Homo sapiens: one gene and its partners. The protein of the gene in region 2 purifies or fractionates together with the protein of the main gene of each other region. This does not show direct contact. Each region holds a gene or a part of one and is shown on either strand. Other genes may lie near its edges. The genes, in order: OLFM4, EVPL, RFC4, PKP2 and SLC25A17.

Region 1 (6,509 bases), on a different chromosome or scaffold from region 2:
GGTTGGATCTCTATGCCACTTTGTAAAAGGCAGAGGGGATCAAAACTAATTGTATATGGCGATCAAAGAAGGAATTCGGCATAGCGCATTTCTCCCTTCTCCAGAAAATACTTAGATGTAGAGCCATGTTTCTAAATGGAAGGAGGGTGGTGTTGGCCGTGGCAACGATTTTGTCCCCAGGGAACATTTAGCAATGCCCAGAGACATTTTTGGTTATCATAACTGGAGAGTGGTTGGATGCAACTGGCATGAAGAAGCCAGGGATGCTGCTTAATATTGTGTAATTCACAGCACAACCCCCACAAGAAATGACAATCCAGTCCCAAATGCTAACAGTGCTGAGGTTGAGAAACAATTAGAGTAAGTGTGTTGAAGGGAGGAGAGATGGCAAGAGACTATGATACAAACCAGTTTAGTTTGGGGAGTTAATGTCTTCAAACATTAAAATGGAGATTAAGAAAAAAGGGCTCAATATCACTTGATCATTAGAGAAATGCAAATCAAAGCCATAGTAAGATACCATCTCATACCAGTCCAGAATGGCTATCATTAAAAAGTAAAAAAATAACAGATGCTGGTGAGATGGCAGAGGAAAGGGAACATTTATACACTGTTGGTGGGAGTGTAAATTAGTTCAGCCATTGTGGAAAGCAGTGTGGTGACTCGAAGAACTAAAAAGAACTATTATTCAACCTAGCAATCCCTTTACTGGGTATATGCCCAAAGGAATATAAATTGTTCTACCATAAAGATACATGGGCGTGTGTGTACATTGCAGTACTATTCACAATAGCAAAGACATGAAATCAACCTAAATGCTCATCAATGGTACACTGGATAAAGAAAATATGGGCCATATACACCATGGAATACTTTGCAACCATAAGAAAGAATGAGATCATGTTCTTTGTAGGAACATGGATAGAGAGCTGGAAGCCATTCTCCGAAGCAAATTAACACAAGAACAGAAAACCAAATACCACATGTTCTCACATATAAATGAGAGCTAAATGATGAGAACACATGGACACAAAGAGGAGAACAACAGAAGCGTACTTGAGGGTGGAGGGTGAAAGGAGGGAGAGGAACAACAACAAAAAAATCTATTGGGTGCTAGGTTTAGTACCTGCGAGACAAAATAACCTTTACAACAAACCCCCATGACATGAGTTTACCTATATAACAAACCTGGGTATATACCCCTGAGCCTAAAACCTTTTTAAAAAATGGAGATTAAAATATACCTGCAAATGATGATGCTGAAGCAAAATTATGTTTAGCCTAGCAAAGTATAAAATCTACCTCCCTTCAATTGGAGTAATAAGTTCTTTGTATATGGATAGATTTTAAAAATCTAGTTAAATGTATTTTTGATCTATTTATTTACAAAACACAATGATTGGCAAGAATCAAATAGTTCTCAACTCAAGGGCTCGGTAGTGGAAGAAGATGGTGTGATACTACTCAGGGAATTGGCTTGAACCTTTTGATTTTCTTTCAGGTGAGGGAATATGTCCAATTAATTAGTGTGTATGAAAAGAAACTGTTAAACCTAACTGTCCGAATTGACATCATGGAGAAGGATACCATTTCTTACACTGAACTGGACTTCGAGCTGATCAAGGTAGAAGTGAAGGAGATGGAAAAACTGGTCATACAGCTGAAGGAGAGTTTTGGTGGAAGCTCAGAAATTGTTGACCAGCTGGAGGTGGAGGTAAGGAGTGAACTCACTTCTTGGTAAATTAATAATAAACTCCCTTCAGTGACTGTAAGCAAGTACTAGTACCAGGAAGTGAAACTATCTCTTCCAACTTCTAATTCTCTACTGTCTCATGGCCACATGGCATATCACTATGTTCTGTTTTGGATAAGGGCATGTGTTTGAATAGTAAGTTAAGCACATTGGGAATGTGCTGACTTAGGAGCAGATGTTGTCTAATGGTCAGAATCCTGCCCCAGAATAAAATGCCCTTTCAACTTCTCTGAAAAGGAGCTGGCATAAAGTTGAACAACGGTTCATGGCCAAGCTATATGAGGTGTCTTCTCTGCTCTAGATTTATCCTCATGGAACTAGAAATCCACAATATACCTGATTGTGGTAAAATTGCTAGGTTTGTTTCTCCTTTTGAATAACCTGGAATCCTTCTCTGCAAACTGGAAACCCCCTTTAAGAAATTTCTTGTATATTTCTGTAAAGCCTTTTAAGATCTGTGGATAAAGACCATCACATTAACGTTATGGTTGGGTAATTTATATCAACAAAAATTTACTAGCACAGTCATGACATGGGCTATAATTGAGAATTCTAGTTACGTATTTTAGAATTTAAGCTTTCTCTGGCCCTCACCATTCATTAGAATCTTAATTATAATACAACATGAGTAAACACAAGTTTATAGGGGAAGGTTATTAGAAATGAACTTTAATGGACATTTGTGGATGCTGAGGATGAGCTTGGGCTCTATTATTAAAGCTATTAAAATCTTTGCCATTTTCTTCTTGTCACACACATCTGCCTGAGATCTGACAGGCATTCATGCTAAACCATAAAATGTATTCTTCCAAATGAAACCATTCAGAAGAATCTCTGGTGTATTCTCTGGCAATGTTTCACTAAATGACAAATTCAGCCCTGGAATGTTTATGAAAGAAATTGCACCATAATATAAAGTCACTCTGAATTTTTATTTCCTTAGATAAGAAATATGACTCTCTTGGTAGAGAAGCTTGAGACACTAGACAAAAACAATGTCCTTGCCATTCGCCGAGAAATCGTGGCTCTGAAGACCAAGCTGAAAGAGTGTGAGGCCTCTAAAGATCAAAACACCCCTGTCGTCCACCCTCCTCCCACTCCAGGTAAGCATGCCAGTTTTTTTAACCACTTGTGCCAGACCCCATAAGGAGCTGTGAGTGGGGTGGGGAAGGGATTGGGGATTGCAATGGTGAAAGAAGAAGGTGGGTTGTTTTTTTTTTTTTTTTTTCAGTTCTCAGTTTTCTCTTCCATGTTTTAAAATTCCCTTCCTCCCAAGTATTCTACATGCTATCATATTCTGGGTTTCAAAGAGGAAGAGCACAAACAATGAGTTGATTTAAAGCAAAATCCACGAGTTACACGTATTCTCTTTGCATTTTCTAACAGGGAACAAAAATCTCTATGGTGATGGAGGCCCTATCAGGGGCCTCAGGGGAAAGCCTCTGGAATCTGTGTGTGGCATCCACTTTCCTGTGGAGTTAAGGACTGATTGGCTCACTTATCTGATGAGCTGGGTTTATGCCTTTGATGCTGCCATCTTCTCTCTCTCCTTCTGTTTCTCTTTAATTTTTTCTTTTTTCTTCCTATAAATGCATGCTGAGCACCTGCTATATTGTGTGTCCTGAGATTCAGTGAGGATTAAAGGAATGACCCCACATATCATGTGCTTGTGGGTGTGTCTTGCCATTCCTCATGGATTGTGAGTTCTTGGAGTAGGGGTGGCATGTTCGTCTTTAATGAATTCTCATTGGGGTTAAGTACAGCACAGAGGTGGGTGTTCTGCAAATATACCCATGAACAGAGGCAGTGGAGTGTAGGGTACAAGAACATAGCTTTAGAATTCCAAAGACCTGAGCTTCTCAGCTAGGTGGCTGCAGCAAAAAGGATCCTTAATATCCTCATTTGTAAAATGGGAGAATAATAGTGCCTGCCTTGCAGGGTGGCTGTGGGGATTAATGAGTCAGTGCTTGGGAAGCTCGGAACCTTATGATCGGCACTCACACGCTGGCAATGGATATTGTTAATAATGTTGATAATTGAAGCGAAAGCCTTGCAGCAAAACAAAAGCAGTGCCAGATTACTGTGCCCTGCAATGCATTCCTTCAGGTAAACTAAAGCCTCTCAGCCACAGTGTTCAGCCCCATCCTTTAGAGATATCAATGACACAGGGACCTTCTCTCTGCAGGTCCTGAGCATCTTAGCCTGAGTGGGGACTGTATCTTTTCATCAAATCATGCAATCCTTTTATTTTTATGAATTCCAATCCTCACACCTGCTTTCTTTTAGACTGTGTTTCTGGATTATTGTCATTGTAACTGATTTTTTAAGGCTTCAATTATTAAATAGGTATAGCCATAGATATAAGCCTCTTGGTCTTCTTCAGGTGGATTTTTTTCCTCCCTCTGCAAATAGGAGTGTGTCCTACTATGACAGGTGTCATCTAATGGTTAGAATCCTGCCCCAGAATGAAATGGCCTTTCAACTTCTCCAGAAAGGAGGTGACATAAATTTGAACAACTGTTCAAATTTCGCATCCTGCATAGGAGGTTTAGGGCAGACAACATGGTCTGTCCTCTGTAATAAACTAAGGCTAAATTTAGTCTGGGATTAGTGGTGCAAAAATGTAGCAAATGAGAGCTGTTTCTGGTGGACCACAGAGGACTCACTGAGGCAGAGGCTGAAGCAATGACAACTCCTGATAATCCCTGAACGAGCTCCCCAACACCCCTTGCAAATCCTCCTCATGGAATAGATTTTTCTGGCACAATTTTCTATGCATCCCTTAGAATGAGGACATTTTAGATGAAGGAATATTCAGGGCCATCTAACTTAGCCTCGTCTTGTCTCAGAGGAGAAGACGTGGATGGTAAGAACGCTGCTTTTCCTGAGGCCACACAAGTAGTTAATGACAGAGCAGAAGCTGCAAGGCAAGGGTCTTTGCTCCCTGGTCAGTTCAGGACCGAAGGTGTCAGGCAGCAGTAATCCAAGGACAACGGTGGGGAGAAAATGCATTGCTTAGTATCCAGGGAAGAAAACAAGTGAGCCTGTTGGGTTGTTTTTGTTGGATTTTTTTTTTCCCAGAACTTTCCCCTAGGCCCTCACACTTAGACTTCTGTGATCCATCCTAGCCCAGCTGTGTTGTTTAAGCAAATTGGACCCAGATTTTTACTCACTTTCCCACAACCTTGGCTGTACCTGAATCCCTGCCAAGCCACTTGGCTCTCTTCCAGCTTTGTTCATATTATATTTATGATGTTTATATTAAACTGACTTTTGGTCATGTTTTTAAATCAATTTCTTTCACTTGCTCTCTTTCTGTTTGGATTGGTTGATAATGCAGAATTGGAAAATCCCCAAGCACCACAAACTTGTGAGCCTGTGGAGACTTTAATTAAAGTTATTCTCTATTATGGGACTTTAAAATCTGGCCTGTCTGCTTTTTTCACTGCAGAGTTGCACAGAATAAAAAAGACTATATGCAAGTCTCAGCTCTAAAGTAACTCTGCGCTCTCTGGGCCCCCTCCCTTATAGCTACAGTTTGCTGACCCAGTGGTCAGCTTGAACTTAGAACAAGTGAATGTATCCCAGGTTCAATAAAATATGCTTCCTATTTGGTTTTTGCTACAAACAACGTCCTTTTTCTGCCTCATTTCATAGAACTTTCTAATCTAAAATAATTGGCCTTCTACTCATTAACTTTTTTCCCTTAAAACTTCAGTCTGTCTCTGTTTTGCCTGTGAATCTAAATGACTGTATATAGGCCAAATGTGATCGGGTGCTCAGGGGTTGATCTCCAGTTTGCTTGGGGATGCAAGGTTCTGTGCTGGTCCATAGTGATGCTCAGTAAGTAGCTGATGATTAAATGGGGTCTGAAAGAAATGGGGTGACCTGCTAAAATCTCAAGCTTAGGGAAGAGCCACATGTTGAACAGCATATATCCAACACTTCAGAGTCAATTTAGTCTTAATCATTTTATGACTATGATTGTTTTAATTGCCTAATTCTTATAAGTCAATCATATTCTCCTCCTGGCTCAAACAAAGTTCAGTTGCCCAGTTGAGAGAGTGCATTAATAGATCCAAGACTAATTTTCCTCTGTAGGCATATAATTATTGGCTTCAAAAAAATGCTACTAACCATGATACTTTTAAAAAGCCAAGTCAGAATATTTTAAATTCTCATGATTATGGCTTCCTCAGGTATTTTCAGAGTACCATGGTGCCATCTAATGAATTGCATGATGAAGAGAGTGCCAACCAAGGCTAAACTTCTATAGAGGGTTCCTCAAATTATGTTCCATGGAGTAAATGCCAGGCTTTTTGAAAAACCAGATATGTAGCAGGGTAGAAGGCTAGTGTTTTATAAATAAGGGTAAGCTGAGTTTAGGTGACTTGATTAATCTTTCATTCCTTTATTCCACAAACATAATTTGGTGCCACTGTGTGGCTGGCCCTGTTCTGGGTACTGGGGTTACCAGCATGAGTAAAGAAACCTCCAGAAGCCACTATCTAGGAAATGAGACATCTAAACCTCCAGTTGTAACATGATGTGATTATATTGAGATATTTACCATTTACTGAGTAACATTTACATGTCTTCTCTGTATTTTTCGTAACTATTTTGCAGAGTTGGTATTATTTTTCTTCTGACATGAGGAAACTGAGGCTCAGAAGGTTAAGTAACTTGCTCAAGGATACACAACTACTGTTGGAATCAGGCTTTGAATTAGAATCTGTCTAGTAGTATTTTCCATACT
Region 2 (6,509 bases):
ACCTCGCCAGACTTAGCTGACCAGCCAGTGAGGACGCCCGCTGCCTCCCACCTGCCCTCCTGCCGTCTTTCGCCAGCCAAGCCCAGCCTGAGCCAGCACTTGCCTTTACGACCATGTTCAAGGGGCTGAGCAAAGGCTCCCAGGGGAAGGGGTCCCCCAAGGGCTCCCCCGCCAAGGGGTCCCCCAAAGGCTCCCCCAGCAGGCACAGCCGGTAAGTGGGACTGGGGGATGGGGAGCCGGGGAACTGGGGTGGGGGTGGTGCCAGGCCCAGGTCCTTGAGCCACCTGGCGGCGGCGGCGGCCCAGAGCCCAGGACCAGCCCCGTGCTGGCATTTGGTGTCCTGAGGCCAAAGGGCCCAGGGATGGACTCTCTCCCTGCCTTGGGAGCCGCAGGCCCAGGCCGAACTTCAGCCCTGGCAGGAGGCAGGGGATGACCTGGGGCTCCCTACATCCTCTAAGGGGGCCTGAGGGCCACGGATTGAGGCCGCTTCGCGGGAGAAGTGCTGGACAGGAGCCTGCACGGAGGCCCTCCTCTGCCAGAGGCTGGGAGACAGGAGAGCCTGGGAGACAGGAGAGCCTGGGAGACAGGAGAGCCTGGCTGCCTGACTGCAGCTCTGCCCCAAGGCTCTACTTGGCTGGGATGACCCCTGGAGCCTGGGTACAGGGCATGAGGACTGAGGGGACGGGGTGGGATCCCTGGGGTAGGGATGCAGGGGCTGTGCTGCCTCCTGCCTAAGCCACAGCCCTCCCCAGAGTTCTCACCCAGGGCCTTGTTGTATTGAAGAGTTAGGGGTTCATGGCCGGGCGCCGTGGCTCACGCCTATAATCCCCGAACTTCAGGAGGCCAATGCGGGAGGATTCCTTGAGCCCAGGAGCTCGAGACCAGCCTGGACAACATAGGGAGATCTTGTTTCTGTAAAAAAATAAAAATAAAAAATAGCCAGGCATGGTGGCTCGTGCCTATTGCTTGAGCCCAGGAGTTTGAGGCTGCAGTGAGCCATGATCACACCCCTGCGCTCCCGCCTGGGTGACAGACTGAGACTCTGTCTTAAAAAAAAAAAAAAAAAAAATCCTGGCGCAATACCTCACGCCTGCAATCCTACAACTTTGGGAGGCCGAGGCGGGTAGATCACTTGAGCCCGGGAGTTCGAGACCAGCCTGGGCAACATGATGAAATCCCGTCTCTACAAAAAATATACAAAAATTATCTGGATGTAGTGGCGCATGCCTGTAGTCAGAGCTACTTGGGAGGCTGAGGTGAGAGGATCACTTGAGCCCGGGAAGTCGAGGCTGCAGTGAGCCGTGATCACTCCACTGCCCTCTAGCCTGGGTGACAGAGCAAGACCCTGTCTGTTAAAACAAAATAGAGCTGGGGCTTCCTTTTCCAGTGGGTGTGGTGCAGGGGGCACTGGGCCTCCCTTGGACCACCCGGCTCTCTGGAGCCCAGCCTCAGCAATCTGTGGATGGATTGGGCGGTGTTCTTCCCACTCACTGGCTTCAGCTCGTCTGCAGAGGAGGCAGCAGCCCGCCTGGGTCCAGGGTGTCGAGATGACCTCAGGGATGAAAGGCTGGTGTGGGAGTGGGGGTGCCCATTACCCCGATAGGGATCAAGGCACCAACAGACACCGAGGCTGGGTGTCTGGGCGGACGGGAAAGACAGTGGTTAAGACTCTCAGCTAACACTCTCGCTGAGTGACCTGTCCTCCCTGGGGCACCTGAGCCCCACCCAGGGTGGAGTGTGCAGCTCCCGGTGGGAGCAGCCATCCCAGGAGGCGGGACCTGAGGAGGGGCGCCCAGGGCCCAGCACCTGCAGCTCCCACTGTCCAGGCAGGCTCCCCAGCAGTGCGCTCCTGGCCTGGGGCAGCTCCGTCCTCAGGGCCCTGTTGGCTCTCCCCTCACGTGCGATCCACTCGTTTGACATGAACTTACTGAGCACTTACTGTATGCCAGGACTGTTCTAGGCACTGGAGATGTCACTGTAGACAGAACCAACAAGCCCCTGCCTTCAAGGCACTAGCCCTCTAATGGGATAAAAACTAACACGTGCTGGGTGCCGACCCTGCACCAGGCCTGCACTGGACGTTTCAGATGGATAAATTCAATTAATGCTCACAATAGCCCTAAGGCATAGATATTTTTATTAAAATCCCGCTTTACAAGTGAGGAACCTCAGGCACAGAGAGGTTGAGTAACTTGACCAAGGTCAAGTCCATCATCTTTCTGATGGAGAAAGATGAAACCAGGGTGTCTTGGCCACAGAGTTCTTCCAGACTGCTGTGCCTTCACCAGCACTGTCCCTTTGCCTGGGGGGGCCCATCCTTTGACCCAGTTCAAGGCTTCTCCTGCCCCAGCATAATGATCCCCCATAAGGCACTGTGCTCATAAGGCTTGGACCAATCTGCCCTCTTTTAGGTCTGCTTGACCTTGTGACCTCCGCACAGTGAGTGCATGCACACAGCAGGTGCTCTATGGAGGCTGCAGGGCGAATGCACAGAAAAAGCCCTGGGGTGGAAGCAAGGTTTCCCCTCCACCCCTGACCATGTGACTCAGAGCAAGTCAGAGCCCAATCTGGGCTTTGAACCCTCAACTCTGGAGAATGTTAGGGTGCCCAGTAGTCTCTTGCGCCTGCCCCACCTCCCCGGCTCCGACAGTGTGAGGCTCCTCTAGATGGCTACTGAAGCCAGCATGCTGGCAAGGCTCCCTGGGGTGGAGGAGGTATAGGGGAACACAGGGCTGGAGTGCGAGGAGGTGGGGATGGGGGACATGCTGCTGCCTCCCTGCCCCAGCCAGCCCAACTACCCCTCCCAGGGCCCAGCCAGGCTGGCTCAGGTGCTAGTGGCTGAGCCGGTGATTCACTGGCTCGGGGAGGGAAGTGGCAGGTAGCTAGGTGGGGTCGGGAACTCACTGCCAGCACAGCTGGCTAAGGCTGGGACACCGAGGCCGCCTGCCCCCTCCCCAGCACCACACAAACCTGAGACCCTCACCTTTTGACCCCTCATGTGGCGGGGCAGTGCTAACACCCCCAACCAGGACTAGCTCACAGAGCCTTCTGCAGAGAGAGACCCCAAAGTCAGGGCAGTGAGCTAGGCTGTGGGGGCAGGATGGGGTGGAGGGAGGGCAGGGGATGCCACCTGGATGGGGCACAGAGGGGCCTCTTCCACCGAGCTACCCGCTGTCCCCTCCACACACTAGGGCTGCCACCCAGGAGCTGGCCCTTCTCATCTCCCGCATGCAAGCCAACGCCGACCAGGTGGAGCGGGACATCCTGGAGACGCAGAAGAGGCTGCAGCAGGTGAGGCCCCGGCAGCAGTTGGCAGGGCGTGGACAGGCTGGGTGGCATGGGAGGCCCATCATCAGGCCTGGCACTCCCTGAGTGCCCCTTGGTGATGGTGAAGATGGGACAGATGACCTTTGTCCTGCACCGCCCATCCCCTAACACACGGTGGGAGAGAGGGCTCAGCTTCCTTCTTTTCTGGGCTCCCCTGTGTCCTTGTCACCTGCCCCACGGACGCCCTGGTCCTGACCCTGTGCCTGGCGTGGGCCTCAAGGTTGGCTAGCATAGCTGGGGTCCCAAAGTTGGGGCTCAGGCCCACAGTGATGGGCAGCAGGGGTGTGGGGGCTCTGGGCCCTGGCCAGTCTGCCCATCTCCTGCCCACAGGACCGGCTGAACAGTGAGCAGAGCCAGGCCCTGCAGCACCAGCAGGAGACGGGCCGCAGCCTGAAGGAGGCTGAGGTGCTGCTCAAGGACCTCTTCCTGGACGTGGACAAGGCCCGGCGGCTCAAGCACCCGCAGGCTGAGGAGATTGAGAAGGAGTGAGTGGAGCTGCGGCAGGGCTGGGGGTCCCTGGGGAAGACCCAGGTCCAGCCCTGACCTGCCGGCCACCTTCTTGACAGCATCAAGCAGCTGCACGAGCGGGTGACCCAGGAGTGTGCGGAGTACCGTGCCCTGTACGAGAAGATGGTGCTGCCCCCCGACGTGGGACCCAGGGTCGACTGGGCACGCGTGCTGGAGCAGAAACAGGTCAGGAACTCAAAGTCACACCCCAGTGTGATCAGAGGGCGATACGGAACTGCATTTAATCCAGGGCCTGACTGCAGGCTTGAATAGTCAGGGTGTAGGGGTGGCTCAGGGGTCTGGGCAGAGAGACAGCAGAGTAGACAGTGCAGTCAGGGAAGACTTCCTGCAGGAGGAGGTACATGAAGAGACCTCAGAGGGGTGAGAGGGCTCAGTTGGGCCAGGGTGAAGTAGTGAGGAGAGGACAATTCCAGAAAGAAGGAGCAAAGGTTCCTGCCAGGAGGAAGCCTGGGCTTCGACGGGAAGTGGGGATTTCTGGGCAGGTGGGCAGAGCCAGGTCATGGGACATTCTGATCCCTGGTTGAGGAGTTGTGCTTTGATGCCACACAGAAGGGGTGTCATCATGACAATAGAGGGACAGTGGGGAAGGGCCCGGCTGGAGCAGGGCATTCTGAGGGCCCTAGAGCTTGGCTGGTGGTGTCCAGGCAGGAAGCACTGAGGCTGGGTCACAGACAAGGCAGGATGGAGCTGGAGACTTCTTAGAGGCTGAGCCCAGCGTCTGGGAACCAGTGGGACTCAGGGGCCACTGCAGAATGGCCTCGCCCCTGGGGGAGCTGCAGGGCATGCACCCGGGCTGCTCCCAGGCTCGTCCACGCTCTGCCCAAATGACCAAGTCCACTTCTCCGGGTGGGAGGCGTGTGGGGTTCTCTGGCTCCCCACCGCGGTCCTTTGGGGACTGAGCCGCCGGCTCTCCTGCAGAAGCAGGTCTGCGCAGGCCAGTACGGGCCGGGCATGGCGGAGCTGGAGCAACAGATCGCCGAGCACAACATCCTGCAGAAGGAGATCGACGCCTATGGGCAGCAGCTGCGGAGCCTCGTGGGGCCGGTAGGTGAGCCTGGAGGATGTCACATCCGGGGCCAGCCCCAGCCCGTTTCTCCAGTCAGAGCCGGAGCTAGATCGGCTGGGCCCTGGGGATAGGGGTGGGTGGGGTATGGCTGGCCCAGATCTTAGGGGGCCGTCTCCCTGCACCCCACCTCTCACGGGCTTGTTTCTCCCCTTGGTCGAGGCAGGATGCAGCCACCATCCGGAGCCAATACCGAGACCTACTGGTGAGCAGGAGGGAGGGTCGGGCAGGGAGGCTGCGGGTGGGCCTGGGTGGCCGCCCGGACCCTGCCCGGGGCCAGTGTTCCTGAGCGCGGCCCAATGGCGCCTTTTGCCCCCCACTTTCTGTCTCCCCACCCTGCTGCTGGCGGCGGGTCCTGAGCACAGAAGGCGGCGTCGTGGCGCGGGCAGAGCCTGGGCAGCCTGTACACGCACCTCCAGGGCTGCACGCGGCAGCTGAGCGCCCTGGCTGAGCAGCAGCGCCGCATCCTGCAGCAGGACTGGAGCGACCTCATGGCCGACCCTGCGGGCGTGCGGCGGGAGTACGAGGTCGGCTGGCAGAGGTCGGGGCCAGGTGGGGGCGGCCAGGGCCATCCGGGTCCTCACCGCCGCTCCCCACCCGACTCGCCCCCAGCACTTCAAGCAGCACGAGCTGCTGAGCCAGGAGCAGAGCGTGAACCAGCTGGAGGACGACGGCGAGCGCATGGTGGAGCTGCGGCACCCCGCGGTGGGGCCCATCCAGGTGCGCTGGGGCAGGGCGAGAGTGAGAAGGGACGTGGTGGGCGGGGAAGGGGGGAGGTGGGGCGGACGTGGGGGGGGCGTGGTCCGAGGGCTCCATGCTGCCGTACCCAGGCCCACCAGGAGGCCCTGAAGATGGAGTGGCAGAACTTCCTGAACCTGTGTATCTGCCAGGAGACCCAGCTGCAGCACGTGGAGGACTACCGCCGGGTGAGCCCTCGGGCAGGCGGCAGGGGCGGCAGGGGCGGCAGGGGCGGCAGGGGCGGGAGCACAGCACCCCTGCCCACAGGAGAGGCACTGCACCTCCCAACTAGACAGAGCTGGCAGGGCGCGGTGGCTCACACCTGTAATCCCAGCACTTTGGGAGGCCGAGGCTGGTGGATCACTTGAGGTCAGGAGTTCGAGATCAGCCTGGCCAACATGGTGAAACCCTGTCTCTACTAAAAATACCAAAATTAGCCAGATGTGGTGGCACGCGCCTGTAATCCGAGCTACTCAGGAGGCTGAGGCAGGAGAATCGCTTGAACCCAGGAGGCGGAGGTTGCAGTGGGCCGAGATTGGTCCACTGCACTCCAGCCTGGGTGACAGAGAGAGACTCCACCTCAAAAATAAAATAAAATAGAGCTGTGTGGTTGCCACTCGGTCCCAGAGGGAAAGAAAGGCATGGGCACATTCTCAACAGGGTGAAGCGGTTCCCAGGGGGGTGAAAATTGGTTCTTACTGGCAGAAAAATATCTTAACTCTTTTTATGCATGAAGTCCAGATCCACATACAGCACCTAAGCTGTATACAGCATATCTGTGGTATTAAAATTTCGTGGGGGCCAGGTGTGGTGGCTCACATCTGTAATTCCAGCACTTTGGGAAGCCGAGCCA
Region 3 (6,509 bases), on a different chromosome or scaffold from region 2:
TAATATACTAAATAACCTCTTTCCTCCTTCTCACCCCGCAAGTCGCCCAAAATGTGTGGATGAAGTTGCTTTCCAGGAAGAAGTGGTTGCAGTGCTGAAAAAATCTTTAGAAGGAGCAGATGTGAGTTGCAAATGGTGTTTAATGTCATTGGGATATTTAAGACTTAATTTATTCACCCTCTTTCTTCCTTTATAACTTCTAGCCCTCGTTAAATATCTTGCTCTGTGTACAGTAGGTCCTTGATAACTATTTGTACAATGATAATTAGTTCAAATATTTATTGAGCATCTCCTATTTAATCTTACATAGCAGTGTTACCTAGTATTCAAGTAAAAGTCATAGTAATTAAGACAAACTATGAAACATAGACATAGAACAAGACATAAAACATAGAACAAGACAAACTATGCCCCTTTTTTCATGGGTTTTTATTGGTAAGGAAAGATAGAATAAACAAGTAAACCAATAAATAATTATAGGTAGTAATATGTGCTATAAAGAAGAGCCAGAGATTCCTCTAAAGTATAATTGCTTACTAACTTTAGGATTTGGATTGACCTATAATACAAAAAAAAAATCGAGCTTTGAATTCTGCTTATAGCTCTCTCTTCTGCTGTGATCTGGGGGATAAAGTATCCATGGATAACTTGCATTGTAAATTATTCTGAGATAAGATAAACCCATGTGAAAAATTAGCAACTTAAAGTTGTGTTATGATGAATGCCCAAAGTGCTTTAACAGCTCAGTAAAGTGCTGAAGTGGGATGTGGTTTTTGCTTTAGTTTCAAGATTTGCTTCCTTCCTCTCAATCTGGCTGCTTTTAATTAGAAGTTCTTTTGGGTTTTGCTGCCATCATTCCCTTGCTGAAATTATATTACTACAGTACACATTTTGAAAGAAGTTAAATTTATAAAACTATTTAGAATCTTTTTCTTTACCAGTATGTGTTTTGATTTGACTCGCATACTCTTATACCTTTTTGGCCGGCCACAGTGGCTCACGCCTGTAATCCTAGCGTTTCGGGAGGCTGAGATGGGAAGATCACTTGAGGTCAGGAGTTCAAGACCAGCCTGGCCAACATGGTGAAACCCCATCTCTACCAAAAATTAGAAAAAGTAGCCAGGCGTGGTGGCACACACCTGTAGTCCCAGCTACTCAGGAGGCTAAAGCGGGAGAATCATTTGAACCTGGGAGGCGGAGGGGTTGCAGTGAGCCAAGATTGTGCCACTGTACTCCAGCCTGGGTGACAGAGTGAGACTCTGGTCTCAAAAATAAATAAATAAATAAGTAATAAAAAATAAATAACACAAATACTCTTATACCTTTTAATTTTATAATAGTATAGCATTTTATTTTTTGGTATATTCTGCTTGCATATCTTGGTAACAGTATATACCATTTTAATTGCAGTTGCATAGTAATTACACAGATTGCAGGACAATATCTAATTTAATTACTAGTATCTTCAGCAAATGTAGTGAGATTAAGATCCAGTTCTTTTGTTTTTTTGTTTTTTTTTGTAATTGAGACAGAGTCTTGCTCTGTCACGCAGGCTGGAGTGCAGTGGCGTGATACCAGCTCACTGCAACCTCCGCCTCCCAGGCTCAAGTGATCCTCCCACCTCAGCCTCCCAAGTAGCTGGGACTACAGGCATGCACCACCACACACAGCTCATTTTTGTATTTTTAGTAGAGATGGTGTTTAGCCATGTCAAGTGACCTGCCCGCTTTGGCCACCTAAAATGCTGGGATTACAGGCATGAGCCATCATGCCCAGCCTAAGATCTAGTTCTTGACTTTATGCCACGTAATTTATGAGGCTGAAGTAAGAACTTCAGTTTAATATTTTGTGCACCTTTTCAGACTAAGTTTTGTAAAGAGGTGAAATAGTTTTTTTAATTCAAAAGAGTAAAGGAAAACAATTCATTCAATTTATTTTGAAAGGTTTTAAAGAATTATAAGAAGATAATTTTTTCAGAAATTGATTTTAAGAACTGGTATTCCACATACAGTTCTTGAATGTACTACATATATTAGACTAGTGTATAATTAAGGTTTAATAATTTTACCCTGTTTCAAAGAATTTAAATTATTGTATCTGATAGTTAACCTGGATGAATCGTTACATTGTTAAGGGATGCACAGATCAAAATAATAGTTGTAGACCTTAATTACTAAGAAGCCTGGGAGGTTTTTAAGTTATGAATCTCATAGTTTGTTCTGTAAGCTATATGTTATGAATGTAACAGTAATAGTCTTCTAATTAACATATTTGTCTATGTATTGGTTTATTCATTCATTTGGCCAACATTGACTACTGTAGTAGATGCTAGAATACAGATGTGAATAGAACAAATAAGGTTCTTGGTCTTTTAATGAAGTAGACAGGCATTTTACAATTAAGCCCCACAGTGAAATAACAATAAACCAATGCAAAATGCAACAAACACTAATGAGAGAATAGGAGAGGAGACCTACTTTAGACTGAATGGTTTCTGATTTGTAATGCATTAGGAGTTGGCCAGGCAGAAAGAAGAGGATCAGACTCCAGGTCATGGGAGCAACATATGTTCGGGCCAGAAAGTGCCAAGCTGTTAGAAGCCATTGTAAGCTAGAGCCTGGAAGGTGAAGGAGGTGGTAGGCAGATCATGGAAGTCCTTTAGGCCATGGTAAAAAGCTGAGGGTTTTTTGGTTTGTTTTTGTTTTTCTAAGTGGAATAGTTTTAAGTAGCAAGCAGAGTGGTATCTGATTTAGGTGAAGAATGAATGGACAGGAAGAGGGAGGGTTAGGCAAGAGTGGAAACAAACTCTAATGCCTAGTTTCCTGTGTACACTGATTTCCTTATGTGACAGGACATACTGAAGATTGCACAGTATCATAACAGAGCTCATTAGAATTTAGTTGACTTATTAATTTTCACCACGGATCAGTCGACTGCTTGATAGGAGCCAAACTAGCTAGATACAAGGTATAAAAGAAGGTAGCTAGTGATTTAATTTTATCCTTTCCTCTTCTAATGAATTCTCCCTGATACATGCAAGCATCCTTACAGAGTGCATAATCATGATGTGGAGCAGTGCCTAGTACTTAATATATATCTAGTTTTGGATTTTTTGTTAATATTTCTGTTCTTGGTACTTCTGCTCATCCAAAGCCCTAATTATGTCTTTTTTAGTCCTTTTTCCTCAGTTTTGGCCAAATCCCATTACTCTTTTGGTCTGCTTCCCCTTTGAAGCAGCTGACATTTTGTGTAATATAAAATCTTACCTAATCTTGAGCATAGAGGTGGGATAGGAAACTGAGATTCCCTTTAGAAATAAAAGGTTTCTCATTCCAGCTTTGAAAATTTCACCTAAGTGGATTAGCTATAGAGCAAGCATAAATATTGGTTCAGCTTAAGAGATTAAAAAGACACTTGGGGAAAAAAGTGGTAGTATATGAAAAAGCAGGATTTAAATCTGTCAGTACTATGATATCAGTTATATTAAGAAAACTTTATACTTAGAAATTACGTGCCCTATTAGAGAAGTCATTGCACTATTCCACAGACATTTTTTTCGATCTTCCTTTTCATCTATTTGTGCCAGAATACCATTTATTAAAAATAAAATTTAATTTCTACAGCTTCCTAATCTCTTGTTTTACGGACCACCTGGAACTGGAAAAACATCCACTATTTTGGCAGCAGCTAGAGAACTCTTTGGGTACGTTGAAATCAGTCTGTTTTTCTTTTTTTAAAGATTTGACACCAAAATTCTCTGATATTGCTTTTTTTCCTCTAAAAATTTGCGTTTCGTTTTCTGTAGGATAGTTTTCTATTTCTGATTTTTAAAAATCCCATGAGCCATTTTGTTCCTCCCTCACTCCCCTGAAGAAATCAGCTTGCCTGCGTCTTTTGTGACCTTCATTGTGAATCTTGTTCAAGTGTGGGGAGCCTATGATTTTTTCCATCACTTTCTTTAAATTTTCCATTATAACTTTGGAGTCCAGAGGGCCCAACTTAATGTCCAGTTGTGCTGATAGTTTTATCACCCTCTTAATGATTGTGTTCACATCTGTGTGGCTACATGATAGAATCTGCTGTTTCTGATGGCACTATTTGCACCATCCATTCTTGAGTCCTGCTCTGGACTTCCTAGGCTCTGACTCTGGAGTGGCCAGTCCAGCTCCTTGCCTCAGGTCTCCTGAGCACAAGTGATGGTTGATGTAGTGTGATTCCAGGTACACCAGAAAATCTTCCTGTGAGTCACCTTCTTATGTTCCTCTTCCTAGATTGACCATCTTGGCTTAACCAGCCATTCTAGAGGAGCCCTTTACCTAGAGTTAAAAGATGTGTAGTGGGCTGGGTCTGATATACATGAAACATGCACCAACATAACAAAGGCTGTTTTGAGTTTATCCAGAATTAATATCAGACATACAACTGATAGAAATATCTGAAATCCTACATATGAAAATAGGCTGGGTGTGGTGGCTCACATCTGTAATCCCAGCACTTTGGGAGGCCGAGGCAGGTGGATCACCTGGGGTGAGGAGTTCGAAACCAGCCTGGCCAACATGGTGAAACCCCATCTCTACTAAAAATACAAAAATTTGCCAGGCATGGTGGCATGCACCTGTAGTCCCAGCTACTCGGCAGGCTGAGGCAGGAGAATCACTTGAACCTGGGAGGCAGAGGTTGCAGTGAGCCGAGATCACGCCACTGCACTCCAGCCTGGGTGACAGAGCGAGACTCCGTCTCAAAAAAAAAAAGACGCCACTGAAATCACCAAATGTGTAAGGATTATTAGTTATGTCAAAATGTAAAAGACAAAGGGAGAAGCTGCTATGTGCCTAATATTTTATTTGACAGCAATTTTTTATTCTCAGTAAAATTATAGAAGAACTTTTTTGATTATTCCACAACTCAATCAGATAGAACCAATCTGAATCAGCCTTAACAGTTGTTTATTATTACTTAGAGTAGGTCAGTCCAGATTATACAACTTTTTCTATATCCTTTATGAAATAATGTTTGTCTTTAAAGAACTTACTTTAACAGTGAATTTCATATTTAATATTGTGGCTTTAAAATAGAAAATAGATGCATGTAAATGTTTATGTCCATAAACATGCTTAGGATACCATGCTGATTAGGAAAAATAGAGATGAAACTAAATCACAACTCTTGTTTTTTATTTAAATGTGTGTGTGTGTGTGTGTGTGTGTGTGTAAAAGACTAGAGGGAAGTTTCAAAAACAGTGCTTTGACAGTGTGCCCACTTTTTTCTTTTGATTTCTCAAATTTCTCTACAGTAAGCATATATTACTTTTAGTAATTTTTATTAAAACTCACTTTAAAAACCTGCTCATGTTTTAATCCATTAATTTTCCTTAATCCAGTAGGTTTCCTTATAGCAAACTACCCTGTGGAATTTATTTATTTATTTGTTTATTTATTTATTTTTGAGACAGTGTCTCGCTCTATTGCCCAGGCTGGAGTGCAGTGGTGCGATCTCGGCTCACTGCAACCTCCACATCCCGGGTTCAAGCAATCCTCCTGCCTCAGCCTCCTGAGTAGCTGGCACTACAGGTGCCTGTAACCACGCCCAGCTAATTTTTGTATTTTTAGTAGAGACAGGGTTTCACCACGTTGGTCAGGCTGGTCTCGAACTCCTGACCTCGTGATCCACCCGCCTCGGCCTCCCAAAGTGCTGGGATTACAGGCATGAGCCACCACATCCGGCCGGAAATAATTTAAAATGTGCTATATTATAACATTATTTAAAATTACAGTATTTAAAACTATCTAGATGTCTAACAATAGAAGAATGTGAAGTAAATGATGGTACAGTCATAGGATGGAATATCATATGACTATTAAAATGTTATTTACAGTGGTTTTGATAATATGCCAAGATACTTATTATAAATGCAAAGTGGAAAATCGATTTAAAATTTTATATGTGGGGCCAGGTGTGGTGCCTCACACCTGTAATCCCAACATTTTGGGAGGCCAAGGTGGAAGGATCACCTGAGACCAGCCTGGCCACATAATGAGTCCCTGCCTCTACAAAAAGTAAACAAAATTAGCCAGGTGTGATGGCATGTGCCTATAGTCCCAGCTAGTTGGGAAGCTAAGGTGGGAGGATCATTTGAGCCCAGGAGTTCAAGGCTGCAGTGAGCCATCATCATGCCACTGTTCTCCAGCCTGAGTGACAGAGCAAGACCTTGTCTCCAAAAAAATAAAAAGAAAAGAAATTGTATATGTTATGTAATGTCTACATTTTTTTAAATGCATGGAAAAAAGCCAAAATGTTAACTGCAGCACTCTGCTGAAGCGAGAATGCAAAAGTGATTGTGTGCCTTCTATCCATGTTGTTTACTAGGTGGATTTTAAACGTCTGCAAAGTGTGCAAATGTTAAAATGTGATTTAAGCCTACTTGTGCTCTATGTTTCATATTTGTTTCATTTTGAGATAGGCCTGAACTTTTCCGATTAAGAGTTCTTGAGTTAAATGCATCTGATGAA
Region 4 (6,509 bases), on a different chromosome or scaffold from region 2:
GGGTTAGCCTAGGCGCGAGCCTCAGCCAACATAAAATAATAATATGAGGCCAGACACGGTGGCTCACAGAGGCTGAGGCAGGAGAATTCCTTGAACCCAGGAGGCAGAGGTTGCAGTGAGCCGAGATCGTGCCATTGCACTCCAGCCTGGGCAACAAGAGCGAAACTCCGTCTGAAAAAATAATAATAACAATAATAATATGAGTTGCTTTCAACTTACTTATAATAATAAATGTCAGCGTCCTTAAGGATCCAACTGTTAATGTGTCCTTGATTTCTCTCTTAAATTGGCTGTCGGGTCATGGAAAAGATTGCTTTCAAGTAAGGGAGGCTGAGGCAGAAGGATCACTTGAGCTCAGAGGTTGGAGTTCAGCCTGGGCAACATAGCGAGACTCCATCTCTAATAAAATTTATAGAAAAAAATTTTTTTTCTTTATTTAAGGTCCAAGTTCCAGCCGTTCTTTGCCATAGAGATTAAAAATTAAGTGGCTGCCTGACCTTTTGCCAGCCCTTGTGGAGAAATCAAGCCCCTGGAAACAGGAGATGCCTGGTTTATCTCAACTGCTCTTGTCTCTAGGGTGACAGTTACAAGCCTGCCACTGCCTCCTCACAAGACTCCTTGAGGCCTGAAAATTGTTTATCAGGCAGATTGTTTGGCTATAGGAAATAAGGACACGTGTACAAACATAATTTAGGATGGATTTAGACTTTTTAGCTCTCTGGCAAAAATAATTTCAAATTACCATTCTCCCTCCCCTTGAATGTATCATCAGTATTTTGAAATTTTGTCTTTATAACAGTTTATTGGAAAAGTTATGTTGATGTGTTCCCATTGTACTGGAAAGGAGCACCCTGTGTTGTTGTATTCTCAACATCTTTCATGAGTCTCTGAAGCCTAGAAGAGTTAATTGAGTATATTTTCCCTCTGATTTCTAAAAAATGCTACATGACAGAAAAAAATTTCAGTTAAATGTAAGAAAGTAGATATTACTTGGCTTTTGGAGATTGTTGATTATTTTGATTAGCCTTTTTTTAAGGCAGTAAGAGAAAACTCAAAAAAAGCTGAGAGAAGGATAAAGGAGGCAGAAGAGGGACACAACATACTGCTTTCCACCACTCCCCCCTCCTCAGACAGGAGTATGTGAAGATATATGAGACAGGCATCAGTTGAATCCCTGTAGGCTTCACAGAGCTGAGCACAAAGGGCTGGCTGCTGTCTGTGTTTTCATGAGAGTGGGCTGGCTATTAGACCACCAAACAAAAGAGGGGCCAGGTGATTCCACAAAAGCAGCCATTTGGATGGAGCATAGAGGTTGATTTCCTTTCCTGCCTAACTCTCCTGTTGCCAAATATCTCAACCCCAGCATTGGCCTGAAGTTGATCCATGTTTCCCTTGATCATGCTGATCTACCCTGTTGTTTTTCTTGCTTTTGTTTTTGTTTTTTTGAGACAGGAGTCTTGCTCTGTCGCCCTGGCTGGAGTGCAGTGGCGCTATCTCGGCTCACTGCAACCTCTGCCTCCCGGGTTCAAGCGATTCTCCTGCCTCAGCCTCCCGAGTAGCTGGGATTACAGGCGCCCACCACCACCCCCGACTAATTTTTGTATTTTTAGGAGAGACCGGTTTCACCATGTTGGCCAGGCTGGTCTCAAACTCCTGACCTCATGATCCGCCCACCTCGGCCTCCCAAAGTGCTGGGATTACAGGTGTGAGCCACCACGCCCGGCCTATCCTGTTGTTTATACAAGCTGTCTTATCTAGTAGTGCTGAGTCACCATTATATTTATTGCCTACACCTGCTTATTACAAGAAGCTTCCGAATTCCTGCCTTGGGAACAGAGTTCTGTGACTCGGGAAACTGAATTTTATAGTCTCGACCAGCTAAACCAGACAATGAGTCCCAAATTTTTCAGCACTATAACAACCAAACATTTTTAGATTTTTGTGAATTTCCTCTCCCTTCTTTTTCTTTTTTTAAATTCAACTTTCATTTTGAAAACTTTTTTTTTTTTTTTTTGAGACAGAGTTTCACTCTTGTTGCTCAGGCTGTAGTGCAATGGCGCAATCTCAGCTTCACTGCAACCTCCACCTCCTGGGTTCAAGCGATTCTCCTGCCACAGCCTCCCGAATAGTTGGGATTACAGGTGCCTGCCACCACGCACAGCTAATTTTTTGTAGTTTTAGTAGAGAGGGGCTTTCACCATGTTGGCCAGGCTGCTCTTGAATGCCTGACCTCGGGTGATCCACCCACCTCTGCCTCTCAAAGTTCTGGGATTACAGGTGTAAGCCACCGTGCCCAGCCAAAACTTTCTTTTTGAGACAGAGTTTCACTTTTGTTGCCCAGGCTGGAGTGCAATTGTGTGATCTTGGCTCACTGCAACCTCTGTCTCCCGAGTTCAAGTGATTCTCCTGCCTCAGCCTCCTGAGTAGCTGGGATTACAGATGCCCGCCACTATGCCCAGCTAATTTTTGTATGTTTAGTAGAGATGGGTTTCGCCATGTTGGCCAGGCTGGTCTTGAACTCCTGACCTCAGGTGATCCACCTGCCTCTGCCTCCCAGAGTGCTGGGATAAGAGGCGTGCGCCACCACACCCAGCTGAAAAACTTTTGTAGAGAATGTTTTGATAACCTTTGATCACTTGCCATATCCCAGGGTGGTGTGAAACTAGCATTTAAAAACATTAACGTACGTTTAATACTTGTTCTTGGCCTTCATTACTTAAATTTAAAAGTTTAATACATCATTGTTATACAGTCTGTAAATATTAATTAGCCTACTTGTATTCTGAGTTATTTTAATATTTGCTTGATTGCAGGAAATCTTCACCGAACCAGCAGTGTTCCTGAGTATGTCTACAACCTACACTTGGTTGAAAATGATTTTGTTGGAGGCCGTTCCCCTGTTCCTAAAACCTATGACATGCTAAAGGTAGGATATCAAAGAATGTAACCCTAGTGATCAGATTACTACCATGAAAATATTTTCAAACTTCCTAAGATTATTTTTGAGTGTTTACTTTTCCCAAGTATTATCATTTCCTAAATGAGTTTTGAGAAAATTGATATTTATGAGGATACCATGGAAAACTAGGGATGTGAAACATTCTTACATCCTAGTGCAAATAAATATGACTCAAGTCAACCAAGTCTTATTTTCAAAAAGCCTTTACCCAGAAAGGGGCAAACTTCTCGTCATCTGATTCAGAGAAACGGACATGTTGGGTAATAGTCCCAGAGTAATTAGTCCTCAGCAAAGTTGAAATTTGATTTATGCCCCCTTTAAACTTTATTTCTCTCATGTGCAGGCTGGCACAACTGCCACTTATGAAGGTCGCTGGGGAAGAGGAACAGCACAGTACAGCTCCCAGAAGTCCGTGGAAGAAAGGTCCTTGAGGCATCCTCTGAGGAGACTGGAGATTTCTCCTGACAGCAGCCCGGAGAGGGCTCACTACACGCACAGCGATTACCAGTACAGCCAGAGAAGCCAGGCTGGGCACACCCTGCACCACCAAGAAAGCAGGCGGGCCGCCCTCCTAGTGCCACCGAGATATGCTCGTTCCGAGATCGTGGGGGTCAGCCGTGCTGGCACCACAAGCAGGCAGCGCCACTTTGACACATACCACAGACAGTACCAGCATGGCTCTGTTAGCGACACCGTTTTTGACAGCATCCCTGCCAACCCGGCCCTGCTCACGTACCCCAGGCCAGGGACCAGCCGCAGCATGGGCAACCTCTTGGAGAAGGAGAACTACCTGACGGCAGGGCTCACTGTCGGGCAGGTCAGGCCGCTGGTGCCCCTGCAGCCCGTCACTCAGAACAGGGCTTCCAGGTCCTCCTGGCATCAGAGCTCCTTCCACAGCACCCGCACGCTGAGGGAAGCTGGGCCCAGTGTCGCCGTGGATTCCAGCGGGAGGAGAGCGCACTTGACTGTCGGCCAGGCGGCCGCAGGGGGAAGTGGGAATCTGCTCACTGAGAGAAGCACTTTCACTGACTCCCAGCTGGGGTAAGTCCCCTCCTGACTCTGCAGTTCAGTCATTGCCAGCACATTCTGTTCCCACAGCCCTGACAGCATGAGCTGGCACTTCTGGGGCTTGAGAGAAGGGCTTCCAGAGATAAGTGATTAAAATAATGACTTTTCAGGCAGCTGCCTAATTGACAGATCAGCCTATTTACCTCAGGGACAGGGGCCAAGCTACCTGCTCACATGGCAGCTTTGTATGGAAATGTGACATTTAGTCCATCTGTTCCAGATTAGATGCTGGCTGAAGGGACCCTACCCCTCAGCCATATGAAAATCTGCTCTAAACTCCAAAGTAGGCCAAGAATTGGAGAATTGCATGCGTATTTTCTTCATCATCCCATGAAATAAAAGGAAAAAATGCTTATTCTTAGCACGAATGCCATTTGGATAACTATGACTGTAAAAAGAGCTAAGGAAAGATGGCTGACTTCTAGATGTCTTTTTTCTTCCTTTGGTACTTGGTACCTTTTAGATTTCTAGTGTCAGTGATTTGAAGGGGTATTCTTTTGGCAGTATTAAATTATTAAAATAACTGAATTTTTAAGTCATTCCTTTCCATTCCTATTTACTTTATAGCTTGACTAATTTAGTGTTTGGAACTTAACCCTTATTCAAGTTTAATGCCTGATCACAAATTTTATAAACTGTGCACGTTACTAAGAGAAAGATTGAGAAATGGATGGCTGATTAGATCAGTAACTCCTGCAATAATGATCTAACATCATTAGGCTAAAACATTAGATATGTTATTGTCATTTGATTGCTAAAGTTGTCTAATGATAGTTGTTACCTCTAAACATCCCTTCAAGTGAAATTGTACAGCATGCTCACTGACCAGGTAGCATCATTAATAAACTACTTCTCAAAATGATGAGGGCTAATCTAATCTTAACACAGGAAATATTTTTTATGATGTAAAATTCACCATGAGATTTCTAACATTTCTTATAGTAAGCAGACCTTAGGCAATATGAGCATACTTACAAAGAGGAAAAATAAGCCGGGAGCAGTGGCCCAGGCCTGTAATCCCAGCACTTTGGGATGCCCAGGCGAGCGAATCACTTGAGTTTAGGAGTTCAAGACCAGCCTGGGCAACATGATGAAACCCCATATCTACGAGCAATACAAATATTAGCTGGGTGTGGTTGTGTGCACGTGTGGTCCTAACTACTCGAGAGGCTGAGGCGGGAGGATTACTTGAGCCCAGGAGATGGAGGTTGCAGTGAGCCAAGATTTGTGCCACTGCACTCCAGCCTGGGGAACACAGTGAGACCTTGTCTCAAAAAAAAAAAGAGAAAGTGTATCAGGTCATTGTTTATGGAGGAAAAAGCTGATAAAGGCTTTTAAACAGGTAATTCAAAATTTATGGAATGCCTACCATAGCCTAGGATTTGTGATAGCCACAGTTTTAGCAAAATGATTTTAACAGTAACAAAATTATTATCTGACATCCTCCAACAACTGGCATTCTCTCCCTCCATCTCTGTGTCCCTTGCTTCTTGAACCACCCTGTCACTTCCCAGTCTCTCGTCAACCCACTGCAATATGATTTCAGTCCCCTCCATTCCACCTAAACAGTCTCCTGACAAATGTAGCAATGATGGCCTTATCTGCTACATCCTAAGCAGACACTATATTGAGTAATATAAGCACTGCTTATATTACTCAACCTGTGGGTGGTGTTTGAGACACCATGAAATTCTCTCATCCCTTGGTTTTCAGGGCACCAGCTTCCCCTGGTTTTCCACTCACCTCTCCAGCCATTCTTTGTTAGTGTTCTCTGCGTGCTCCCTTTCTGCCTGCTCAAAGAAGGCATCTTCAGTAACCCTTCTATTCCAAGTCTTGATGCTCTTCCAGAGAGGCTCTGTGTACCTCACTTTTATCCTTATGGTTCTCAAAGTTTTGTCTGCAATTCCATCCTTGATGCCAAATTCTGGACCTATATGAAAATGTAACAACCTCCTGGAAATTTCACACTCAGTATATCCTAAACTAAACTCATCATCTCCCTATCCTCAACTTCCACCCATCTCCTCCTGCTGTAGTCTACTATTTTCAAACCTGGAAGTCATTCTTATCTTCTCCCTCTGTAGTCACCTATCACCAAGCCATATTTTTCCTTCTATGATGGGTCTTGAATTTTTACCCTTCTTTCCATTTCCATTACACAGGGCTCTCTGCCTCTGGTCTTGCTCAGTCAGAACCGTTCTCTAGGACTGTCAGAATTATCTTTCCACATGTGATTGTTTATAACCCTTCCATAATTCCACTAAGTGTTCATGCTTTTAGGCATGACCTACAAGCCCCATTGTGTTTTCAGCTCTGCTTATCACTTCAGCCTCTTCTCCTTCTACTCTTCTCTGCCATTCATCACCACCATCCCCAAACATACCCACATACCAATACCCAAACCACCTGGAACCTCTTTACTTTCCTTAATGCAAGATATTTATCCATATTCATTCTCTCTCTCTTTCCTTCTTTTCCCCCA
Region 5 (5,617 bases), on a different chromosome or scaffold from region 2:
CAACTACTCGGGAGGCTGAGGCAGGAGAATCACTTGAACCTGGGAGGTGGAGGTTGCAGTGAGCCAAAATTGTGCCATTGCACTCCAGCCTGGGTGACAGAGTGAGAAGATGTCTCAAAAAAAAAAAAAAAGGAAAAATTTTTCTTATTTTCACTTATTTGATTGAAATATTTCACTCAGTTGAAAAATACAGGATTAATGAAATCTATGGTACTAATTGGATAAATTTATTAATGTATGCTATAAGATACTACTCCAACATAATATCCTCCCCAGGTAAAAATGAAGATTTTAAAAAACAGCAACAGTACTTTTGTTTTTTTTCCCTCTTTCCTCAGTTTGGGCGTCATAGACTAAACCCAGAAAACAGAACATTGGGAAGTCTTCGGAATATTCTCTATCTTCTTCACCAACGAGTAAGGTGAGCTTTGTAGATGCCTCACATTCCGTGCTCTCCTTCAGCAGCCATCTCTGCCAGGGAGGGGTTGCATTTCCCTCTCTCACACTACTGCCTTGGTGGTGGCAACCTCCAAAACCTTTCCCTTGCTTGCTGTGCTTAGACATTTCCCATTTTAGGAGCCTAGTACAGTATGACAGCATTTTGGGAAATTATGGAAAAGTTCAGGTTCTTATTCTTTGTTAGTTACAAATATTCAGAACTCCTTCAGAAAGAGAACCCTTCTATACTTCAGTCACCCTGAGTGTGCTTTCATCAGTGGCATATCCTATGATGCCTCTTAGCAATATAACATCTGCCTATAGAATAGGAGTACTGGAGAAGGGAGGGGGCAGTGGAAAAAGTGATAATAGTGATGATGATGATGATAATGATGATGGTGGTGTTGGTAAGAGTAGCTAACATTTTCAGTGGTTTGCCATGTGGCAGACACTGACCTAGAGGCTACACATAGGTAATCTCAATCCTTTTTTTTTTTTTTTTTTTTTTTGGAGACAGAGTCTCGCTCTGTTGCCCGGGCTGGAGTGCAGTGGCGCTATCTCCGCTCACGGCAAGCTCCGCCTCCTGGGTTCACACCATTCTCCTGCCTCAGCCTCCCAAGTAGCTGGGACTACAGGCGCCTGCCACCACGCCTGGCTCATTTTTTGTATTTTTTAGTAGAGATGGGGTTTCACTGTGTTTGCCAGGATGGTCTTGATCTCCTGACCTCGTGATCTGCCCTTCTCAGCCTCCCAAAGTGCTGGGATTACAGGTGTGAGCCACCGCGCCCAGCCTTGTCAATCCTAACAGTAGCTCTGTGAGTTAAGAACTATTGTCATTTCCTGTTTCATTTAAAGAAACTGACACTTAGTGAAGTCAGATAAGTCAGGGACCTCCTTTGAAGCAAAAGCTCTTATAACTTTATTACTGTTCCTAGATACAAGATACTTTGAAAATAAATTTATTATTAAAATAAAATATGCAGCCAGGCAAAGTGGCTCATGCCTGTAATCCCAACACTTTGGAAGGCTGAGACAGGAGGATAGCTTGAGGCCAGGAGTTCAAGACCAGCCTGGGCAAAGTAGTGAGACCCTGTCTCTACAAAAAATATTTACAAAATTAGCCAAGCATGTGGCACAAACCTGTAATCACAGCTACACACGAGGCTGAAGCAGGAGATTCACTTGAGCCCGGCAGATTGAGGCTGTACTGAGCTATGATGGCACCACTGTACTCCAGCCTGGGCTAAAGAGGCAAGACCTTGTATAAAAAAAATAAAAAAAAAAAAAGAACATTCAAGGGACTAAAAGACAAAATTAGGCTGGGCGTGGTGGCTCACACCTATAATCCCAGCACTTTAGGAGGCCAAGGCAGGCAGATCGCTTTAGCTCAGGAGTTTGATACTGGCCTGGGCAACATAGTGAGACCCCGTCTCTACACAAATAAAAAATTAGCTAGGCATCCTGGTGCCTGCCTGTAGTCCCAGCTACCCAGGAGGCTGAGGTGGAAGGATTGCTTGAACCCAGGAGGTCGAGGCTGCAGTGAGCTGTGATTGTGCCACTGCACTCTAGCCTGAGCAACAGAGTGAGACCTTCTATCAAAAAATAAAATAAAATAAAAGACAAAGAATATGTATAAAGTAAAAAATAAATACTCACTATATCAAGTATTGGGAGGGATGTTGGAGCAACCAGAACTTACTTTCTTATGCTGCTGGTGGGAATATAGAATGGTACAGCTGCTTTGGAAGGCAATTTGGCATTTTCTTTAAAAATTTTTATATACCACACCTATTATAGGACCCAGCCATCCACTTCAGGGTATTTACCCAAGAGAAATGAAGGCATATGTCTACACAAAAGCTTGTATACAAATGTTAATAATGGCTTTGTTTTTTTTTTTTTAATTTTTTAATTTTTGATTTTTGTGGGTACATAGTAGGTATATATTTTTGAGGTATGTGAGATGTTTTGATACAGGCATGCAAAGCATAATAATCACATCATGGAAAATGGGGTATCTATCCTCTCAAACATTTATTCTTTTTGTTACAAACAGTCCTATTATACTCTTTTAGTTATTTTTAAATGTACAATTAAATTATTATTGACTATAGTCACCTGTTGTGCTAGCAAATACTAGGTCTTATTCAAACTATCTATTTTTGTACCTATTAACCATCCCCACCTTCCCCCCGCCACTACTCTTCCCAGTAGTCTCTGGTAACCATCCTTCTACCTTTATCTCCATGAGTTCAATTGTTTTGATTTTTAGGTCCCTCAAATAAGTGAGAACATGCGATATTTGTCTTTCTGTGCCTGGTTTGTTTCACTTAGCAGAATGACCTCCAGTTCCATCCATGTTGTTACAAACAACAAACTCTCATTCTTTTTGATGGCTGAATAGTACTGCATTTTGTATAAGTACCACATTTTCTTTATCCATTTATCTGTTGATGGACATGTAGCTTGCTTCCAAATTTAAGACATTATTTGTAAGAACCAAAAACTAGGGCCTGGCACGGTGGCTCACACCTGTAATCCCAGCACTTTGGGAGGCTGAGGCGGGCAGATCACGAGGTCAGGGGATCGAGACCATCCTGGCTAACATGGTGAAACCCCATCTCCACTAAAAATACAAAAAAAAATTAGCCTGGTGTCGTGGCGGGTGCCTCTAGTCCCAGCTGCTAGGGAGGCTGAGGCAGGAGAATGGCATGAACTCGGGAGGCGGAGCTTGCAGTGAGCCGAGATCGCGCCACTGCACTCCAGCCTGGGCGACAGAGCGAGACTCCGTCTCAAAAAAAGGAAAGTACTTTGACAACAGAAGTCTGTGTTGAAATCTAAAACCTCTATTGCTTGTTCTTATCAAAGTAGCTATCTAGGTAGCATGTTCTCTGATGCAGGAGCTGACTTCTGTTTTTTCAAACCTCTTTCCCTTTAGACGTTTTGGAATAATGGGACTCTACAAAGGCCTTGAAGCCAAACTGCTGCAGACAGTCCTCACTGCTGCTCTCATGTTCCTTGTTTATGAGAAACTGACAGCTGCCACCTTCACAGTTATGGGGCTGAAGCGTGCACACCAACACTGAGACGCCTTCCCATGAAAAATTCCGAAGATGCTCAAGAGGGAGGTTTCCTCCTGAGTGAAGAGAAGTGATTCTCCCTTGACTCTGGCTCCTGCCACCACAAATGTTACCCTCATTGGCTTGAAAAGCATCCAAGGGTGCACAGGGAGTATGGCCAACTGGACCTGTTGTCACCTTAATTGTCATGCTGGCTGGTTGGATTTTGGGGTGGCAGTTGGACTAATGTGAAAAAAACATTGCTGAAAACCTAAAAATGAAAGTTTGTGAGTGTTTATTGGTTTTCTTAAGAGAAATGGACTATTTTGCTCTCATGTGTAATGTTTTCTATTTAAATCTTTCTTAAATATACCAGCTGTTCTCTTTCCCTGAACTCTCCCCCAGGTTCTAGGACAAATTTAATAACATGTAATTCTCCTCAAATACTTTTGTATGTCTCAGTGTTGGTGTTTTCCTCCCTAAAACTAACATTAGGGCTGTGCCACGGGCATGACTTTATTTTTGTTGGGCTTTTTTTTCCCTGCTTAAGGAGAGGTGTCTTTTTTGGATATGAGCTATTTATTTTGTGAAATGAAAATTGTTCACCCAAATGATTCTCTTATAAACTATTTGTAAATGTCACTTATTCATTAGTGTTTGACATAATTTTTAGAATATTTATTTTGAATCAATCCTTTCATTACGAAAGACTTGAAGTTTTGTGTCCATTCTTACAAGCCCTGGTCAGTCAAGTCCCAATAAATGGTCAGCACAAAAAAGATATTCTTGAAAATTGCTCTTTATTAAGGTATTACGTTGAGTTTGCAACCAGATGGGAAAAATCACAAAAATGAGAAGGGGAGCAGATATCTTGTTGAGGTCTGGATATTATCTCCCTTTATAAACTTGGTGTAGGCCGTATATTTTGAAAATAAACATCTGGTTGAGGTTATTTCATTTGGAAACCTTCCTTAGAGTCCTGTTGCTCAGTGTGGTCCATCAGACGGTAGTACTGCCACAAGCTGAGAGCTTGCTGGGCACGCAACCCAGAGTTTCTGAATCCTGTTCCGTATTTTAACATTCCCAGGTGATTCACAGCCACATTAAAGTTCAGGAGACCATAGGACCCCTGACCCATGAGAAGAAGTGATTGGTTTCGATTATAGACATCAAGATAAAGATTTTTCTCAAAGGAAAGAGATTAATGTATTAAAACAACCTCTGAAAAATCTAGGAGTCGTATGTCATCTTTTGCTTTCACCTCACAGCACGTTGTTAAGGTGGTAAGGCTTTTATTATGCGGCCAGGAGTGGATTTAGATATCTCGACCCACTCAGGAAGCAAATTCACTTGACATTAGCAGAGCGGTTCTTTGGATTTCTATGACTTCCTTTTTGTCCCTATGACAAAATGGCGGGTTTTTCATTTGTAAGTCCATGATTTAGTCAGAGAGAGTAATAATGAAATACTTCATTATTAAGGATTTAGTTCAATTTTGAGAGTGGAAATTTCCTTCTCTTATTTCCTCTCTTTAGTCCCTGTGGTAATTTCAAAGTATATGATTGTTAAAGATCATTGCATTGTTCTAGCAAACAAAAATTAGCAGGAGCTAATAATCTGGGAAGAAGACTGAACATTCATCCCCTATTTAAGTCAGAGAATTGAAGACAGAATTGTTTTTTCTATTTTTTAATTTTACTTTAAGGTTTTTGTGTGCCTGTGGCAGACCTTGAGTGGGAAGTACAAAATTATTTTGATTTCTGTATAGGAGAAAAATGATCATAAAGGTGTCATGTGTATTTTCATTATTGTTTTAATTATGCCGTTCCCTTTGGAACTTGAATTTTGAGCTCAGAATATTGTGAGTTGGTCTGTTAGGATAATTTCCAGTTCGAATTATATAGCTGTATTAGGTATTTATGATGTGAGAATGTATTTGATGCTTCTCTTTTTCTGATTTTATGAGGAAACAATTTAACATTGAGGGTTATGTTCCTTATGGAAATTTACAAACTCACTAGTTGAAACTAGTTAGTAACCCACCTAGTTTTATAACCATTGGTTAATAATAAGTTGTTTGAGGAAACTAAAGAGCTGAAGTCTGTACTAGGGAAATGGGA

What was found.
Region 1: the proteins of EVPL (region 2) and OLFM4 purify together in Homo sapiens (co-immunoprecipitation; one large-scale study listed by IntAct). This does not show direct contact.
Region 3: the proteins of EVPL (region 2) and RFC4 purify together in Homo sapiens (co-immunoprecipitation; one large-scale study listed by IntAct). This does not show direct contact.
Region 4: the proteins of EVPL (region 2) and PKP2 purify together in Homo sapiens (co-immunoprecipitation; one large-scale study listed by IntAct). This does not show direct contact.
Region 5: the proteins of EVPL (region 2) and SLC25A17 fractionate together in Homo sapiens (co-fractionation; one large-scale study listed by BioGRID). This does not show direct contact.

The regions. Positions count from the first base shown.
Region 1 is NC_000013.11:53,040,409-53,046,917, forward strand, and holds part of OLFM4 (olfactomedin-4 precursor), read left to right. Parts: intron 1-1,501; coding exon 1,502-1,714; intron 1,715-2,696; coding exon 2,697-2,856; intron 2,857-6,509. UniProt on the Homo sapiens protein: May promote proliferation of pancreatic cancer cells by favoring the transition from the S to G2/M phase. In myeloid leukemic cell lines, inhibits cell growth and induces cell differentiation and apoptosis.
Region 2 is NC_000017.11:76,020,803-76,027,311, reverse strand, and holds the start of EVPL (envoplakin), read left to right. Parts: upstream 1-5; 5' UTR 6-113; coding exon 114-211; intron 212-3,191; coding exon 3,192-3,291; intron 3,292-3,657; coding exon 3,658-3,812; intron 3,813-3,893; coding exon 3,894-4,020; intron 4,021-4,773; coding exon 4,774-4,899; intron 4,900-5,084; coding exon 5,085-5,123; intron 5,124-5,283; coding exon 5,284-5,445; intron 5,446-5,530; coding exon 5,531-5,638; intron 5,639-5,748; coding exon 5,749-5,844; intron 5,845-6,509. UniProt on the Homo sapiens protein: Component of the cornified envelope of keratinocytes. May link the cornified envelope to desmosomes and intermediate filaments.
Region 3 is NC_000003.12:186,794,729-186,801,237, reverse strand, and holds part of RFC4 (replication factor C subunit 4), read left to right. Parts: intron 1-42; coding exon 43-121; intron 122-3,623; coding exon 3,624-3,703; intron 3,704-6,460; coding exon 6,461-6,509. UniProt on the Homo sapiens protein: Subunit of the replication factor C (RFC) complex which acts during elongation of primed DNA templates by DNA polymerases delta and epsilon, and is necessary for ATP-dependent loading of proliferating cell nuclear antigen (PCNA) onto primed DNA.
Region 4 is NC_000012.12:32,875,337-32,881,845, reverse strand, and holds part of PKP2 (plakophilin-2), read left to right. Parts: intron 1-2,813; coding exon 2,814-2,926; intron 2,927-3,302; coding exon 3,303-4,000; intron 4,001-6,509. UniProt on the Homo sapiens protein: A component of desmosome cell-cell junctions which are required for positive regulation of cellular adhesion.
Region 5 is NC_000022.11:40,768,741-40,774,357, reverse strand, and holds the end of SLC25A17 (peroxisomal membrane protein PMP34), read left to right. Parts: intron 1-338; coding exon 339-421; intron 422-3,376; coding exon 3,377-3,524; 3' UTR 3,525-4,728; downstream 4,729-5,617.